Regions from separate parts of the Homo sapiens genome. Here region 1 is linked to region 2. Evidence: fine-mapped expression QTL. A gene starts in region 2. The other region holds a variant in brackets. All regions are shown on one strand. Distances are from middle to middle. Region 1 overlaps GIGYF2 (GRB10 interacting GYF protein 2). Region 2 holds the start of GIGYF2 (GRB10 interacting GYF protein 2).

Evidence for each region. PIP is the estimated chance that this variant, and not a neighbour inherited with it, causes the effect.
Region 1: its variant is fine-mapped to the expression of GIGYF2 in whole blood (TOPMed, PIP above 0.99).

The regions. Positions count from the first base shown.
Region 1 is chr2:232,833,499-232,841,832 of GRCh38, forward strand. It overlaps GIGYF2 (GRB10 interacting GYF protein 2), which reads left to right. Exons shown (of 29, transcript NM_001103146.3): 23 at 6,351-6,473. Among named protein-coding and RNA genes, the nearest start is that of SNORC, 33 kb to the right of the region's middle. The variant G/A (reference allele first, on the strand shown) is at 4,788.
Region 2 is chr2:232,693,789-232,702,122 of GRCh38, forward strand. It overlaps GIGYF2 (GRB10 interacting GYF protein 2), which reads left to right and starts at 3,543. Exons shown (of 29, transcript NM_001103146.3): 1 at 3,543-3,604. RefSeq lists enhancers at 3,350-4,046, 4,047-4,741 and silencers at 3,396-3,485, 3,516-3,845.

The DNA of each region.
Region 1 (8,334 bases), 140 kb after region 2:
GTTTTTTGATCATCAATAAGATACATAATGCACATACTTTGTATTAGGCATTTAAATGAGAGAGGAGTAAACAAGAGGATAGGACATGAGCAGCAATGCAGGCAAAACAAGTAAATCTGTTTGGTTTGTAAATTTAATGTGGCTCAGTAAACACTGGAGTGCCTATTCCATACCAGTTCAGCGCTGCTGAGACAAACATAAATGAGACAAGGCAGTTGCTCCCAGAGAGCTCACCAACTTAAAAATATAGGCATGTAAACGTTCAGATGTGTAAATGGGAACTAGAATATAGGGCTTGAAACAGAGTTGGCCATAGGCATTTATTGAAAGTTACATTAAGAGGTGATATATACAAAGTGTTGTTTTAAAGAGGATTCAAAACTTTTTTTTTTTTTTTAATAAGGAGAAAGTAAATACTGGGAGCCTAGTAAAGAGGCTGTGTTGGTGCTGGTGTGAATGAATAGGAGAGGCCAGCAGGAGGGAGCTGGCCTGATAGCAGTCAGCAAGAATTAATTAGTCTCTGGAGCTGAGGGAGGAAGGCAGAAGCTGGGGTGCCTGCCAGATAAGTTTCAGTGACTGAGAAGATAGTGGAACTGTTGATGGAATTGGAGTAATTGGGAAGGGAGGAGCAGACTTATGGCAGGTTCTGCATAACTTCATGCTGGGTCTGCAGTGCGCAGTAAGGTTTAGTGTCCCCTATCTTCAAGTAGCTCACAGGTTAGACACATAAACAGGCAAGTAGAATACAGTATGGTGAGTATAGTGGGAGAGGTGGCATGGAGTCAGTCATTCTCAGAGTTCCGTCACTTGGGAACTTGTGAGATGTGCAGATTCGCACCCCAGACCTATTGAATCAGAACCTCTAAGGGTGGAACTGAGAAATCTTGTATTTAAACAAACCCATGCTCTCTAAAATGTGAGAACCACTGTCCATCTGGGAAGTTTGGAGAGGCTTCTTGAAAAAAGGTAACTTCCAAACTGAGTCTGGCTTTCAGCATTTTTACTATGACGTGTCTGTTTGTGGATCTCCTTGTGTTTAATCTACTCAGAATTCATGGTGCTTCCTGGATGTATAGATTAATGTTTTTCCATAAACTGGAGAAGTTTTTAGCCATTATTTCTTCAATTGTATGTTCTGTTCCTTTCTCTCTCTCCTTCAGGCACTTGAGTGATGCTTATGTTGATGCACTTCATGCACTTAATGGTGTCTCATTTCTCTAAGGCTCTCTTCAGTTTTCATGTTCTTCTCTCTATTCTTTGTGTAATCTGTATTGATCTATCTTTAAGTTTCTTTCTTTTGCCAGTTCAGATACACTATAGTGTACCTCTAGTGATTTTTTTTTTAACTAAAAGTTTTTTATATATATTTAGGGCATGCAAGTGTAGTTTTCTTAATAGCATATATTGCACAGTGGTGAAGTCCAGGCTTTTCGTGTACTTATCTCCTAAATAGTGAGCATTGTACCCAGTAGGTGATTGTTCAACCCTTACTCACCTCGTATTCTCCCAGCTTTGGGGGTCTCCAGTGTCCATTATTCCACTTTGTGTGCCTGTTTGTTTAGCCCCCACTTATAAGTGAGAACATGCAGTATTTGACTTTCTGTTTCTGGGTTACCTTACTTAGGACAATAGCCTCCAGTTCCATCTGTGTTGCTGTGAAAGACAAGATTTCATTCTTTTTTGTGGCTGAGTAGCATTCCATGCCTTATATAAACACCACATTTTCTTTATCCAATCCTCTGTTGATGGGCAGTTTTTAATTTCAGTTATTATACTTTGGTACTCCAGAATTTCCTTTTGGTTTTTTAAAAAATATCATCTATCTCTTTATCAATATTCTTTATTTGGTGTGACACTGTCATCATACCTTCCTTTACTACTTTAGTTATAGCTTCCTTAGGTTCCCTGAACAACTTTTATAACATATGCGAAGTCTTTGTGAAATCTGACATCTTGTTCACTCTCACAGGCAGTTTTTGTTGCCTGCTTTTTTCCCCAGTGTATGGGTTATACTTTCCTGTTTCTTGCATGTATCGTAATTTTTTATTGGCAGCTGGACTTTTTGATAATGTCTTCTAGCAACTCTGGGTATCTCCACCCGCCCTTCCCAGCTTGATTTTCTTACTTGTTTGTTTATTTGTTTTGTGACTGGATGGATTATTTTAGTGGAATCCAGTTCTCCCCTCCTCCCCCCGACCATGTTGAAGCCCTTGCTCTTGCCCATGTTGGGGATATAGCACTGGGTGTGCCCAGAGTGACTCCGAGGTGACCGTGGGTTTGGCAGGGCTCTCTTTGATTGTCTTTTCCACACCCAGCTGTTTCACTCCACTTATTGCTAGCTGATTGCTCTGTTGTTCTTAACCCATTTCCCGTTTGCCCTGAGAATATCCCTGGTGGTGCGTGTGGCTGCAGCGCTGACCCCGAGATAACTCTCGGATTACAGTCCTAACCTTACCCCTAAATGCTTTTCAGAGAATTATATCCAAACAGCACTGATGCAGTTAGGACAGCTTGTTGGAACAGAAAACAGATGCCAAATGATCTAGGAAAAAAAACCTGCGAGTTAGCCCTGGGTAAACGCTGCAGCTGCACATGCTGCCAGCAAATATTCTCGGGGCAGATGGGAAATGGGTTAAAATTGTCCTGGGCTGGGTGCAGTGGCTCACGCCTATAATCCCAGCACTTTGGGAGGCCGAGGCTGGTGGTTCGCTGGAGCTCAGGAATTCAGTACCAGCCTGGGCAACATGGTGAAACCCCATCTCTACATATATATATATATATATATATATATATATATATATATATATATATATATATATATATATATATATACATATATATACTTATATATTTATATATATAAATATAAATATATATAAATATAAATATATATAAATATAAATATATATATAAATAAATTATTCAGGCGTGGTGATGTGTGCCTGTGGTCCTAGCTACTCAGGAGGCTGAGGTGGGAAGATCACTTGAGCCTGGGAGACAGAGGTTATAGTGGGCCAAAATCATACCACTGCACTCCAGCCTGGGTGACGGAGTGAGACCCTGTCTCAAAAAAAAAAAAAAAAAAAAAATCCCTTGGGGCATACACTGACAGACTGATCCACTTAAATTCAGGTTTCTTTGAAGAAATAGCTCCTGAGGTCTATATATGAAATTTGTTTTGACTCCGGGAGGATTTCTTCTAGTTTTCTTTAACTAGTTTTCTCAGATAAGGTAGCAGCCTCCTACAGTTTAGCCTGTATCTCCTATGAATCTACCAGTCTCCTCCTAATTGCCTTTTATCCCAACTTCTACTGTTTCTGAAAACACCATTAGGCTTGAACTCATCCACTGTCTGTTGCAAATAAAGTCAGTTCCTTTGGGAAGAAACCTGGAGCTTTCTGTTTTCTACCTGTTTCCTACACCACTACCCTCAGACAAAAATCTCTCAGTCAGCTCTGGAAGTGGGCACAGTGGTCTGCTTTCCTCTAACATTTGCTGAAGGGTGGGCAGAATAGTAGCCTCAGGTATTCTTGGCTTGCCTCTCCTGATGGCTTGGCCCGGCCAGCTGCATTGGTGATCACGACCCTAGTGTTGGTGTTGCTGTGGTCAAGTTTCCATCCTATGAGTGGGGCTGGGCACAAGAAGAGAGCCTCCACATCTGTTGCACTTGTTTGGAACTTAGCATTTGTCACAGGTGACTGCCATCAGGGTGAGACACACCGATGTGCTTTTCCCAGGAAGAAAGCCTGCTGACTGATGGCTGAGGGGAGAAGGGAAGCCGTGTCTTGACTGTACCAGTCTAGAGTGGAGTTTCTGTCTCATTAAGCTGGGAGGAGAGAAGGAGAGTAGGTCTTGGTTTAAGTATCACCAACTCTTGCTGTTCTTACTGAGTTTTAGCAAATATTCTTGAATAAACTTTTTTTCATTTGCTGTATGCCCTTAGGAGTATTTCCAGAGACTTTATTTATTTTTTTGAGACAGGGTCTGGCTCTGTCGCCCAGGCTGGAGTGCAGTGACACGATCTCAGCTCACTGCAACCTCCGCCTCCTGAGTTCAAGCGATCCTCCTGGCCTCAGCCTCCTAAGTAGCTGGATTAAAGGTGTGCGTCACCACACCCAGCTACTTTTTTTTTTTATTTTTAGTAGAAATGGGATTTTGCCATGTTGGCCAGGCTGATGTCAAACTCCTGACCTCAAGTGATCCGCCTGCCTCGGCCTCCCAAAGTGCTGGGATTACAGGTGTGGGGCCCTGCTGCCAGCCAGAGAGTTTAAATGATTATTTTAAAAATGATCTTCACCAGTTTTGCCAGGGAGCAGGTCCACGCAGCTCCTCATGCTGTCATTCCGACAGTGAAACAGTTATTTCTTAAAGCAAAACCAGTGTTGAAATGTAAGGTAGCAATGTCAGCGCAGAACAAGAAGAGTATAGTTTTAAAAATCAATGAAGGACATTAGGCATTCGGGGGTCCCTATTTGCTTTTGATTTGTCAAAAGTTTGTTCTGAGAAGCATGATTGACACACTGCAGTTCTCCTGAGTGGGCATTATAGGGTGGGCTGGTAAGTGTCATGAGGCAATGTTGAAAGAGCTCTGGGATATTATTTCCGATGTACAAAGAAGACTTAAGGAAAATGAAAGCTATCAGCAGACATAAGTCTATATAAGGAAGACTTAACTTTGGTCTGTAGAACAGACCTATGAAATATAGAGTATATATTTTGTGTGTATATATACCTAGAGAAAGAGCGTGTGTATGTATATGTATATGTGTGTATGTGTGTGTGCATGT[G/A]TATATATATATATACACGCATATGTATGTGTGTGTATATAGAGAGAAATAGGGAGTCAGGCCAGGGAGGAGAGAGAAAATAAATATATTTTGGCACAGCAATAGGAAGATTCTCAGAGGTGCCCGTGAGGATAGATGGCCATTTCTGGAGGCACTGCCTCTATTCCCAGTGCTGGCTGAGTTCTGCTGAAGCGGGCTTGAAAGATTGTTTCCTGATTACCATGGGGTGACACATCTACTGTGATTTTAGACAACATCAGTGGTTACTGGCTGCATCAGAATGATTAAAATATGCTGATTCTCCTGCCTTCCCTTCTGATCTTCTGATTGATTAGGTGTGGTGGAGCCAGGGCCTCTACATTTTTATAGGTCCCTTCAGGTTATGCTGCCAGTTTGAGATCTACTGCCTTACTTGATCTTGATAGTGCCTTCAAATGAGTCATTTCCTGTGGAGACAAAGTTAATTTTTGCTCAGTTTTGCCTCTCAACACCTCCCTCCCCCAGTCTTTGTTAACTTCCCTCTGCACCCCTCCCCCACCCCAGGGCAGGTGCATTTTGAGAGAAATGCCCTATTGTCTGTCATATTGGCTAAAAAATGTTAAGAGTTGATTATGTTCAGTAGTGTTGAAGACATTCATTTGAAGAGTTGTTTGGCAGTATCAGTGATGGTTTAAACTGTTTATACCTTTTATCCTATCAATATCCACTGTTATAGATTTCTGCTGTAGGTCCATTCTTTTGGGGACTGTTTGGCATTTTATTTGTTTTGATCTATGTTCATGTATTATTTTTATTAAATACATTTTTTAAGTCTGGTTAGGTTTCTTTTTTATTGTGTTCGCTTGTTTGATGCCTCAGTATTAAAAGTGTGTCTTTTTCTGGCCAGGAAGAGCAAGGGGTTCTCTGAGAATAATCAGGCTTTGAGAATATTGAAATATTCAGGACCTAGATATTTATACTCTATTTTAGTCAATAATCTTAAGGGATGGGAAAAATAAAATTATTGATTAAAAGCAGCTTAATGCTCATGACTAGAAGCTACAGCCTGGTTAACAGTGGCTCCCTTTCATAAAGGCTGATCAAGAACTATGCCAGCATCTCTCATGAGATGAGAAATCTCATGGTGCTACCCTCAGAAATCGTGTCCTTAACACTTTCACTGGACAGCAGCATATCATGTCCTTTGTTGCTTTCGTCAATTAAAAAATCCTTAAGCCAATTTAGTGATTCTTTTGTTTACTCCTCTTTATGGTTGTATATTGCTGTTTATGTCAGTACCAGATGTAACAAATTTGTTGTCACCAAGAGGTAGATGAAATGTAAGTGTGTATGTGTATTATAAGTTGTTTTAAAATAAACTTAGGTTTGGAGCAGTGACAAAAACTTAAGCAAAAGAAGCTGAGAGGATAGTAAGTAAAAGCAATGAAGAAGGAAATTTGAATTGAATGTGGTAAATGGAGTTGAGAGAAATGCATTTGTTCTGGGTATACATAATGCATTATTGCTTCTTTGTTTCCTGTCCACATTTCCTCATGAACTTTCTGGCCTTCCCTTTTTTGTTAGCTTCCTTCTTCTTCAACGTGGGGCCAGCAGTCCAATACAACAGCATGTCAGTCCCAGGCCACGCTGTCGTTGGCTGAAATCCAAAAACTAGAGGAAGAACGAGAACGGCAGCTTCGAGAAGAGGTAAAATTTTAAAGTAAAAGGGATCTAGTCAAGCGATGTTCCAGAATATCTAGCATGCATTATGGGTTAGTGGTTACTGAGGACAATTACTGTCAGAATTGTTGTGTGTCTGAATTGGACGTTCATTATTAAACTTCAGCCCATAATTTGGTTACCCTAGCAAATGTGAAGGATCTCATAGGTATAACATGAAGATTGAGTAACATAACTGTTCAGTTTTCTTAAACATTTTACTGTAGTTCTTGAGAAGACCTCATAAATAAAACTACACGGGTTGTTCAAAATTGTGGGTGAGTTGTGTGCAGATAATCTTTTATAAGTCTGATGTCTAGAAAGCAGAATATGTTTTTCTCTAAAGACACTGGGTTCCCTGACTAGTCTAGAAAAATGTGACAGAAATAAAGTACCTCTGCTTTTAAGTGTATATCCTGTAGTTCATCATTAGGGTAGGAAGGATACAAAAGAGTATAAAAGGGAAGGGGAATAACACAGCTTTTGACAGAGAGGAGAAAATGAATAATTTTCATAGTTTGGTTCAGTATGCCATTCGGTGCTCATTCATTCATTCATTCATTCATTCATTCAACACATGTTTACTGAGTACCTACTCACTTAAGGTCTGGGGATATAGCTGAGTCTAAAACAGGCAAGATTTTCTGCATTCATGAAGCTGACCCTCTGATTGAGAAGAGAAAAGTAGAAAATGAAGCGTATGAGAGGTTGATAAGTGTCAGAGAGGTAACAAGGGAAGGTGGGTAGGGAGAGTGTTGGGAGTCAGGGATAATGATGGTGTGGTGGATTGTCCAAATTTAGGTAGTGTGTTCTGAGAAGGCCTCTGAAAAGGTGACATAATATAGCAGAGTCTTGAAGATGCTTTATGTGGATATGATTTGAGGTAGAGCAGTCAATTTGTTAGAGAATGTAAGTTGTCATTTTTGGATCTGGGTCATGTGGTTCACTGAAATTAGGAGGGCTTTGGATACACAAGGAGAAATAGAAATTGTCTATATGTGTTTACCAGGTAGTGTGCTTGAAGTCATCCAGTAAGATAAGATGTTTCTTCACACTTGAAGATGACCTTATTTCCCACCTTTATTTAAGAAAAAAAAAAAAAAGAATTGAACTTTCTCTGGAATCATCTTTCTCTAAAAGGTTATCAACAAATGGATGCAGAACAGAGTATGTCTCTCCCTTCAAAGCTAGAAATTATTCCACTAATTTTGGTCCCTACTGAATGAGAAGATAATAATAGTGGTAATGACAAGGAATCACAGGTCTTCTCCTGTCTACCAGAAGTTAATAATTATTTCATTCGTGTTTTCTTTTTCTTTTTTTTCTTTTAGAGACTGAGGCTCGCTCTGTCACCCAGGCAGGAGTGCAGTGGCGCGATCTCGGCTCACTGCAGCCTCCACCTCCTGAGTTCAAGTGATTCTCCTGCCTCAGCCTCCCGAGTAGCTGGGATTACAGGCACTTGCCACCACCACCAGCTATTTTTTTTTTTTTTTTTTTTTTTAAGTATTTTTAGTAGAGACGGAGTTTCACCATGTTGGCCAGGCTGGTTTCAAACTCCTGACCTCAAGTGATCCACCCGCCTCGGCCTCCCAAAGTGCTGGAATAACAGACATGAGCCACCGTGCCCTGCCTTCATTTGTATTTTCATTTAATTTTCTTGGAACTTTTAAGTCTCCCTGTACCCTTTATAAGGGTGCCTCTTAATACACATTTCACATATTTCTTACGTAGAAAAACCCAAGATGATTTTATTTCATTATCATCCCTGGAGGCATCCTTTCTGGGGGCCTCTAACCTGTTCCAATCAGGACACTCTCAGCTTGCTTTATAGCTGCTGTTTTGTTTTTCT
Region 2 (8,334 bases):
TTTAATACCACTATTTAGTGAAACACTGGAAAGACAGAGTTACTAAAAGGAGAAAAGGAAAGCACCCTTCCTGAAGAGTAGATAATCAAGAATCGATTGGGTTTTATTGGTGTTTGTTGAGCATTTACTGTGTGTCAGGGCAATACCAGCTGCAGAGGTTGCTGGATGGAATAATGCAGCACTCACAATGGTTAAAAGCTGGGATTTTCTCCAGCTTTTTTTTTTTTTTTTTTTTTTGAGACAGGGTCTCACTCTATCACCCAGGCTGGAGTGCAGTGGCACACAATCTCAGTTCACTGTAACCTCTGCTTCCCAGGCTCGAGTGATCCTCCCACCTCAGCCTCCCAAGTAGCTGGAACTACAGTTCTACATTATCATGCTCAGCTACTTTTTTTTGTATTTTTAGTAGAGATGGGGTTTCACCATGTTGGCCAGGCTGGTCTTGAACTCCTGAACTCAGGTGATCTGACTGCCTCAGCCTCCCAAAGTGCTGGTATTACAGGCGTGAGCCATCGTGCCTGGCCACTTGTATATATTTGTCTCAAGTTGCAGAACTGTGCACTAAAAGTGCTAAATTTTATTGTGTGCAAATTATATCTTAATTTAAAAAATATATGTATAGGCAATGTACAGGTGGCATGGCATCAGAGAGGTGGCATGACAAGTTGGTTAGGGACATGGGTTCTACAATTTGCCAGCCTGGGCTTGGAAATCCTGGTTGAGATTTGGATATGGTAAGCACTTCTCTCAGAAGCCTGGTTGGATTGCTCCATAGCGCTCTTACTAGGATCACATGAGACAGTGCAAGGAAAGTTTTTAATGGGGTGGTCAGTACATAACAAGTATTAGTATTACTTTTTTCCTTAAAAATAACAGCTCAAGGGGTAAATTCTTTGGTCTAATGGAGGCACAGAGGCAGTAACACATGGACTGGCAGGAGTTGCAGGTTGGGGAGAAGTGGGTAAGTGTTGGGAACGGCATTGCAGCAGGATGGAACAGCATGTGCAAAGGCTAAAACATAATGTCATGTTTACGAATCTTTTAACATGGGCCTATCTGGAGCACTTAGTTCAGGGGGAAGATCAAGGAGAAGAGAACAACATGGATGATGGGTAGAGTTCTTTTTGATTGTTTGTTTTAGATACAGGGTCTTGCTCTTTTGCCCAGGCTGGAGTGCAGTGGCATGATCATAGCTCATTGTAGCTTTGTATTCCTGGGCTGGTGATCCTCAGCCTCCCAAGTAGCTAGGACTGCAGGTGCACGCCACCACGCCTGGCTAATTATTATGTATTTATTTTTTTTTAGAAATGGGATCTCTCTATGTTTTCCCAAGCTATGGGGGTAGAATTCTGCAGAATGGGACTGTGAAGGGCTCCTTTGAGTTTCTGTATTTCTAACAAGTCTCCACGTGATGTTGATGCTACTGTACCACTTTGAGCGGTAAGGGTATAAAAGTCAAGGGAAGAAAGTGTTTCAGAAGGCCGGGAGCGGTGGCTCATGTCTGTAATCCCAGCACTTTGGGAGGCCGAGGTGGGCGGATCACCTGAGGTCGGGAGTTCAAGACCAGCCTGATCAATATGGAGAAACCCCGTCTCTACTAAAAATACAAAATTAGCCGGGCGTGGTGGCATATGCCTGTAATCTCAGTTACTTGGGAGGGTGAGGCAGGAGAATCGCTTGAACCTGGGAGGCGGAGGTTGCGGTGAGCGGAGATCACGCCATTGCACTCCAGCCTGGGCAACAAGAGCGAAACTGTCTCAAAAATAAATAAATAAATAAATAAAGTGTTTCAGAAAGTAGGAAGAGGCCAATCATATTGAAGACAGGGAAACACGAAGTCAAGATGAGGACTGAAAGACTCCAGTTATCAACCTGTAGGATGGGGTGTTCTTAGGGCAAGCAATAGGCAGATAGGAAAGGACAGAAGCCACATCGGTGTGGTTGATGATTGCATGCCAGGTGTGGAAATGGAGAAAGTGCATATAAACAATTCTTTGGTGCAGCTTGGCTTTGAAAGGGAACAGGGTCGCAGGAGGGAGAATTGGTGTTTTTGATTGTTTGTTTGTTTATTTGTTTTTTTCGAGACGGATTTTCACTCTTGTTGCCCAGGCTGGCGTGCAGTGGCGCGATCTTGGCTCACCGCAATCTCAGCATCCCGGGTTCAAGCGATTCTCCTGCCTCAGCTACCCAAGTAGCTGGGATTACAGGCATGCGCCACCACGCTCGGCTAATTTTGTATTTTTAGTAGAGACGGGGTTTCTCCATGTTGGTCAGGCTGGTCTCAAACTCCCAACCTCAGGTGATCCGCCGCCTCGGCCTCCCAAAGTGCTGGGATTACAGGCGTGAGCCACTGCCCGGCCGAGAATTGGAGGTTTTTGTTTTTGTTTTAGACGGAGTCTTGCTCTGTCGCCAGGCTGGAGTGCAGTGGCGCGATATCGGCTCACTGCAACGTCTGCCTCCCCAGTTCAAGCGATTCTCCTGCCTCAGCCTCCCGACTAGCTGCGACTGCAGGTGCGTGCCACCACGCCCGGCTACATTTTTTTTTGTATTTTTAGTAGAGACGGGATTTCACCGTGTTAGCCAGGATGGTCTGGTCTCGATCTCCTGACCTCGTGATCCGCCCACCTCCGCCTCCCAAAGTGCTGAGATTACAGGTGTGAGCCACTGCGCCCGGCATGAGAATTGGAGTTTTTAACATTCCATTTTAAGATGGGAGACACAAGTAATCTTTAAAGCTGACAGGAAGGATCCTGTAGGAAGGAAGAAGTTGGAGACACAGGCAAGAATGGGATGCCTAAGGATAGAGTTGCTAGATTTAGCAAACACAGGACGCCCAATTAAATTTGAATTTCAGAAAAACAACGAACAATTTTTCAGTGTGTGCCCCAAATATTGCTGGGTGTCTTGTATTTTATCTGTCAATTCCAAAATAGTTCATCTCTAGGTAAAAGGGTTATAGCCCCAGATGTCCTAGGAAGGAATCAGAGCTCTCAAGTCCTTTCCAGCTGTCCCAGTACAACACTCTGAAATGAATTCCCAGTTCTACCAGAACTGTTAACAAGTAGAGAAACTGCTTTGAATTTCAGCTTTTGCGGCTTTCCCATTCGCTCTAGGATGGCAACTGCGAAGAAAAATGCCGGACTAAAAGCTGTGGAAAAGTTCTAATTTGGAAAACCAGCCCGCAAGTGATGCAGAGGCTTTTGAACTGCAAAAGAGCTCTGGGCGTACAGGACAGTGAGTCACACGGTGCCTGGTCCGGGCCCAACCCTGGACACCAACACCACTCAACTCAAGGGCAGGTACCCGGCTGCTGCCAAGGGGTCAGCGGGAGCCTGCGCACTGCCACGGCCCCGCCCTCTTCCAACCTTTCATCCGGGTCTCGGGCAGGGGCGTGTCTGGGCAGAGGGGCGGGTGGTGGCGGAAAGGAAGGATGTCGTGGGAGACTGGAGAGTGGGGAGGGAAGCGGGAAGGGGCGGGGGCGGAGCAGGGGGCGTGGCGGAGCGGGAGCGCGGTCACGTGACGTGCGTGGCGACGTGTCGGCCATCTTGTGTTGTTGAGGCTGAGGACTGACTGGGGTTCTGAGACTCCCTGTCCCGGACCGCAGGTAACCAGCCGTTCCGTGTCGCTCCCCTGCCCGGCTCTGCTCCGCGCCCCGGCCCCGCCGCCGCGTCCCGGGCCGCCTGTGTCTCCGGTCCGCGTTCGCGCCCCTGCTCCTCCTGCCCGAGCTGGCCCGGCCGCATGGACACCCACAGGCCGCTCCGGCCGGCTTGGGCCGTCAGGCGACGGGACAGGTCAGGTGCAGGGCCGGAGGGAGCCTCCTCCTGGGCGAGGGGCGCTGAGGGCCCTGGCGCGTCACGGCCGCGAGGAGCCGAGAAGCCCCTAGGCCAGGGCCTCTTGGCATTGCGAGGGGAGCCGAACAAGGCAGGAGGGTTGTGGGGTGGGCAGTGTCAGGCCGGCTTGCTCGGAGCTGGAGGGCTCGCCTTCCTCTGCTTGCTTCTCCGCGCCAGACACCCGCCCAGTCTCGGGGTGGCCCGGTAACAGCTGCTGCGGCCAGACAGCTGCTCCTGCCGGCTCTCCTGTCCACACCTGGTCCCTGGGAGGTGCGCTCCTGCCTTCCCCACAGAGCATCTGGACGGAGGAGACTCCTTCCGTGGCGAGAGTACTGGGTCTGGACCAGGCCTGAGGCGAGGTGCAGCCACCATGATCGGAACCTTGGGACCGAGGCTGGGAAACTAGAGCCCATGGCAGCCTTGGGGACCCAAATGTTCACATCAGGTTGAAATGGGCATTATCCTTAAGTGTCAGTTTCCAAAAGCACTCTGAATACTTGTTTTGCGACTGAAACATAAATCAAGCGAACAGGGAATGGGGGCATGAAAGAAGCGGAGCGTATGACCGTGTTTGGGAAGCAATAACGTTGTTTTGCAGTTAATTATTTAGTACTGTGTTTTTTATTTTGTTGTTTTCGTTTTCCTGCAAGTCAAAGCACTTAAACACACGTAGTCTCTCTGTAAGAAAGGTAAGTATTCCAGTTTAACTTGCAAGAAATTGAGTATGGGGCTAGAAGCTGTGAACAGCTTCCTTTCTAGAGCTACATACATTGAATTAAGGCAGTTTTGATTCCCAATGTTGTGCCTGGGGAAGGTATTCTTTCTTTATATAGTATGTCCTTTTTAGAATCAAATGACTTCCTAGATTAGAAAAAAAAATTCTGTCATTCTTTCTGTACATTAATTTTGCTCCTTCTAATATTTGTAGCTTTGGCCTTATTTTGTCCATTTTGCCTAGAACACAAATACTTTCTCTTATTCATTGATGGTTTTACGTGTTTTACTAGTTGGTGTAGCAGTTTCTGATGTGCTCAAACTGGAATATGTACTTGGCTTTTACATCAGATGTTGACAACAGAAGAGGACACTAGAAAAGTATTTAAAAGTGGCACGTAACTGGAAAAATGTCACATGATGTTTCTTTCGAAATTTAACATCAAGGAATACACTGGTGATGGTAGTGCTTCACCAGAAAGGAGAGGGCTTCATGACTTTTTGGTACCTGACAGCATTTGAGACTCTTGAGGTTTGGGAGGGAGAAGGAACCATGTGCTTCCATTCATTTGTTTATTCATTCATACATTCATTTATTTGACAGATACCCTGTTGAGCACTTACTACACTGTTAAGTACTGGGAGCAAAACAGACCAAACAATTCCTGTCTGTATGGAATTCATTTCTAGACAGATAAATAGGTAAAATACTTGATGTAGTGGTAAGCGATGTGAAAGAAAAAAATGAGTCAGGGAGATAGAATAATAGGGGTTTGGGGAGGGGTTAATTTTAAGTGCCCTGAGAAGGCCTCATGGAGAAGCTAACACTGGAGGAAAAACCCAACAGAGGTGAAGGTGCTGTTTCTTTAGCTATACTGGGGTAAAAGTGCTCTAGGCTAGGGAGCAGCAAGAGCAAAGACCCGGAGACAAAAGCTTAGGAGCGATTCAGGAGTAGACTGGGAAAAGCATGGAGGCTAGCCTAGGCTGAGAGGCTAGGGTGAGTGGGAGACTGGTGGGAGATGTGTGTACTTACTGTTTGGTACTAAGATGAGATGGATTATTTGCTATCCTGAATTCTTTTTTCTTATCTCTTGTGATTCTTGGAAAGGGAAATCAGATTCTGGAAATTTGGGCCAGCAGCCAGCCTCCCCAACCCCCTTAACTCCCATCCCCATCCGCTAATTTGGAAAAATTTAGGATGCTCAGTATTTCAGGAAATTATAATGAATTATCTTTCTCAAAAGTAAACGTTTTAAAATGAGATTGATGATAAACTGCTTGAAAGTACTTTTCAAAAGCAATTGCTTTACAAGAAGGAGGCTCTTTGGAGATTTCAGGATATTTGAAAATGTAGGGAAATTAGAAATTTTCCTTTCACATTTAGACACATGATTAAGGAACATACCAGGAAGAAAGGTGGAAACAATGTATTAACTCAAATTATCCTTAATCTGGTTAGTAAAGAATTTTTCTTAATACTGTGCTGTCCAGCCCGGAGACTCTTCCTCTAATTCATGTGTATATCCTTCACATTTTACACGTGTAGAACTTTTTGTGCTGAGTTTTTTATTCCTCCACTTTTACCTTTCAGACTAGTTGTCTAGTCTGATACTTAATAGACATATTTTTTTGCAAAAAACATTTTCTGATTTCCTTCCAGTTTATCTCCATATTCTTTTTACTGAGCTTTCATAAATGTCCTCTTTCATTTTAGTTCAGCTGAGGAATTTTAATATTTTGGTTTTGAAATGCTTTTGCTGGTGAGATGCATATGTGAAAAACACTTTGGAGTAGGTTTGCCTCAAAATCATGAGAAGATGGAAATTACAAGGTCAGTGTGTGAATGCAACTCCTTGGCTAAAAGGGAGGCATAGTGATGGTAGTGATGAGGTAGTGTTTTAACTAATTGCCTTTCTTCCTCTTGTTTTTCTATTGTGTTTTTGAAATGACATTTCCAAATTATGTCTTTGATGTCATATCAGCTCATTTGTTTTCATGACTCTGCATTTTAATACTCCATATTGTCTCTTCTCTTTTTGTTGACCTTCACATTGGAAGATGACACTGTTGATAGTGATTGCTATCTGGGAGAACCTTTTTGGGTAAAAAGATTACTACTGTCGCTTTTATGATTGCCCTTCTGTAGGATCTTTGACTTGTGCCATTTTCAAATTTTGACTTTGTTTGCAGTTCTCCATTAGCTCCTGCTGATTAAATTTCCCATACTTTCTGTTTTATTCTATTTCTTATAGATTATAGTGGGACCAGTCTCATTAGGTTGAATCTACAGCCTATGTTGGTGTTAACCCAGGTCTCTTAGAGGCAAGTTAAATGTCCATTTTCCTTCAGTTTAAATTACCATGGCATATTGTTTGGTCATTGTTGTAACAGTCTGAACTCAAGCTTTTTTTCACTGCTTGATTCCCACTAGGGTTTTGTGGTGATAAAGTCCTATGGTTTTTGCATGGGAGAGTATTTAAGAATAAAAGGAAAAATATATAAAATGAAAAAGAAATAGAAGTTTAAAATAAGATAAAAAAGTCCTAGAGTTTCCATTCATTTTTAATACTTTGAAAAATTACATCTCTTTAAAACTAGAGATTTTTATTTCATGTATAAACTTGCTTATAGTTAGCATTGCAGTGTTTCTTGACCAAATATTGTTTTTACATTTTATTCATGCTCTCAGATGAATGAGAAATATACTAAATTAATTATGTAGGAATGTAAAGTGATACCTTTATTGAATTGCCTATAGTTTTGTGTGAGGTTGAAAGCAGAAAGAGGTTTGAAAAACAAAGAATGTTCTCTTAATTGACCAAACTTCATTTTATAAAGGTATTTCAAAGTATTACATACTTCCCTACTTTAAGTAAATAAGGAACACAATTTTATATTTTCTTGTTAACTATGGGGTTTCATTAAGCTTAATTATTATTATTATTTGAGATGGAATCTCACTGTGTTGCTCAGGCTACAGTGCAGCGGCCTGATCTTGGCTCACTACAGCCTGTGATAGAGCAAGACCCTGTCTCCTGGGGGTTTGGGGTTGCAGTGAGCCGTGATTGCACCGCTGCGCTCCAGCCTAGGTGATAGAGCAAGACTTTCTCCAAAAAAGACAGGGTCTTGCTCTGTCACCTAGGCTGGAGGGCAGCGGTGCAATCACCACTGACTGTAACCTCAATCTCCCAGGCTCAAGCCATCCTCCCACCTCAGCCTCCTAAGTAACTGGGATTATAGGTCCATGCCACCACATCTGGCCAATATTTTTTGTAGAGATGGGGTCTCACTATGTTGCCTAGGCTGGTCTTAAACCTCTGGTCTCAAGTGATACTCCCGCTTCAGCTTCCCAAAGTGTTGAGATTATAGGCATGAGCCACTGTGCCCCACCAAGAATGCAATTTGAGAAAGTCACATCCACTTCTGATTTAATTTTGCAAAAAAAGTAGCCATGTTATAATGTCCAAAGGTCATCCAACTTTACCCACTGAACTGTGTAATTTTTTAAGGGCAGGAGGAAAGGGAAGAAGAAATGGATAATAAACTCTTCTTTGGCTGGGTGCAGTAGTTTACACCTATAATCCCGGCACTTTGGGAGGCTGAGGTAGGAGGATCACTTGAGCCATGAGACCAGCCGGGGCAACAGAGAGAGACCCCCATCTCTAAAAAAGATTTTTAAAAAATTAGCTGAGTATGGTGGTGCACGCCTGTAGTCACAGCTACTCAGGAGGCTGAGCCCAGGAGGTCAAGGCTACAGTGAGCTCTGATTGTACCACTACACTCCAGCTGA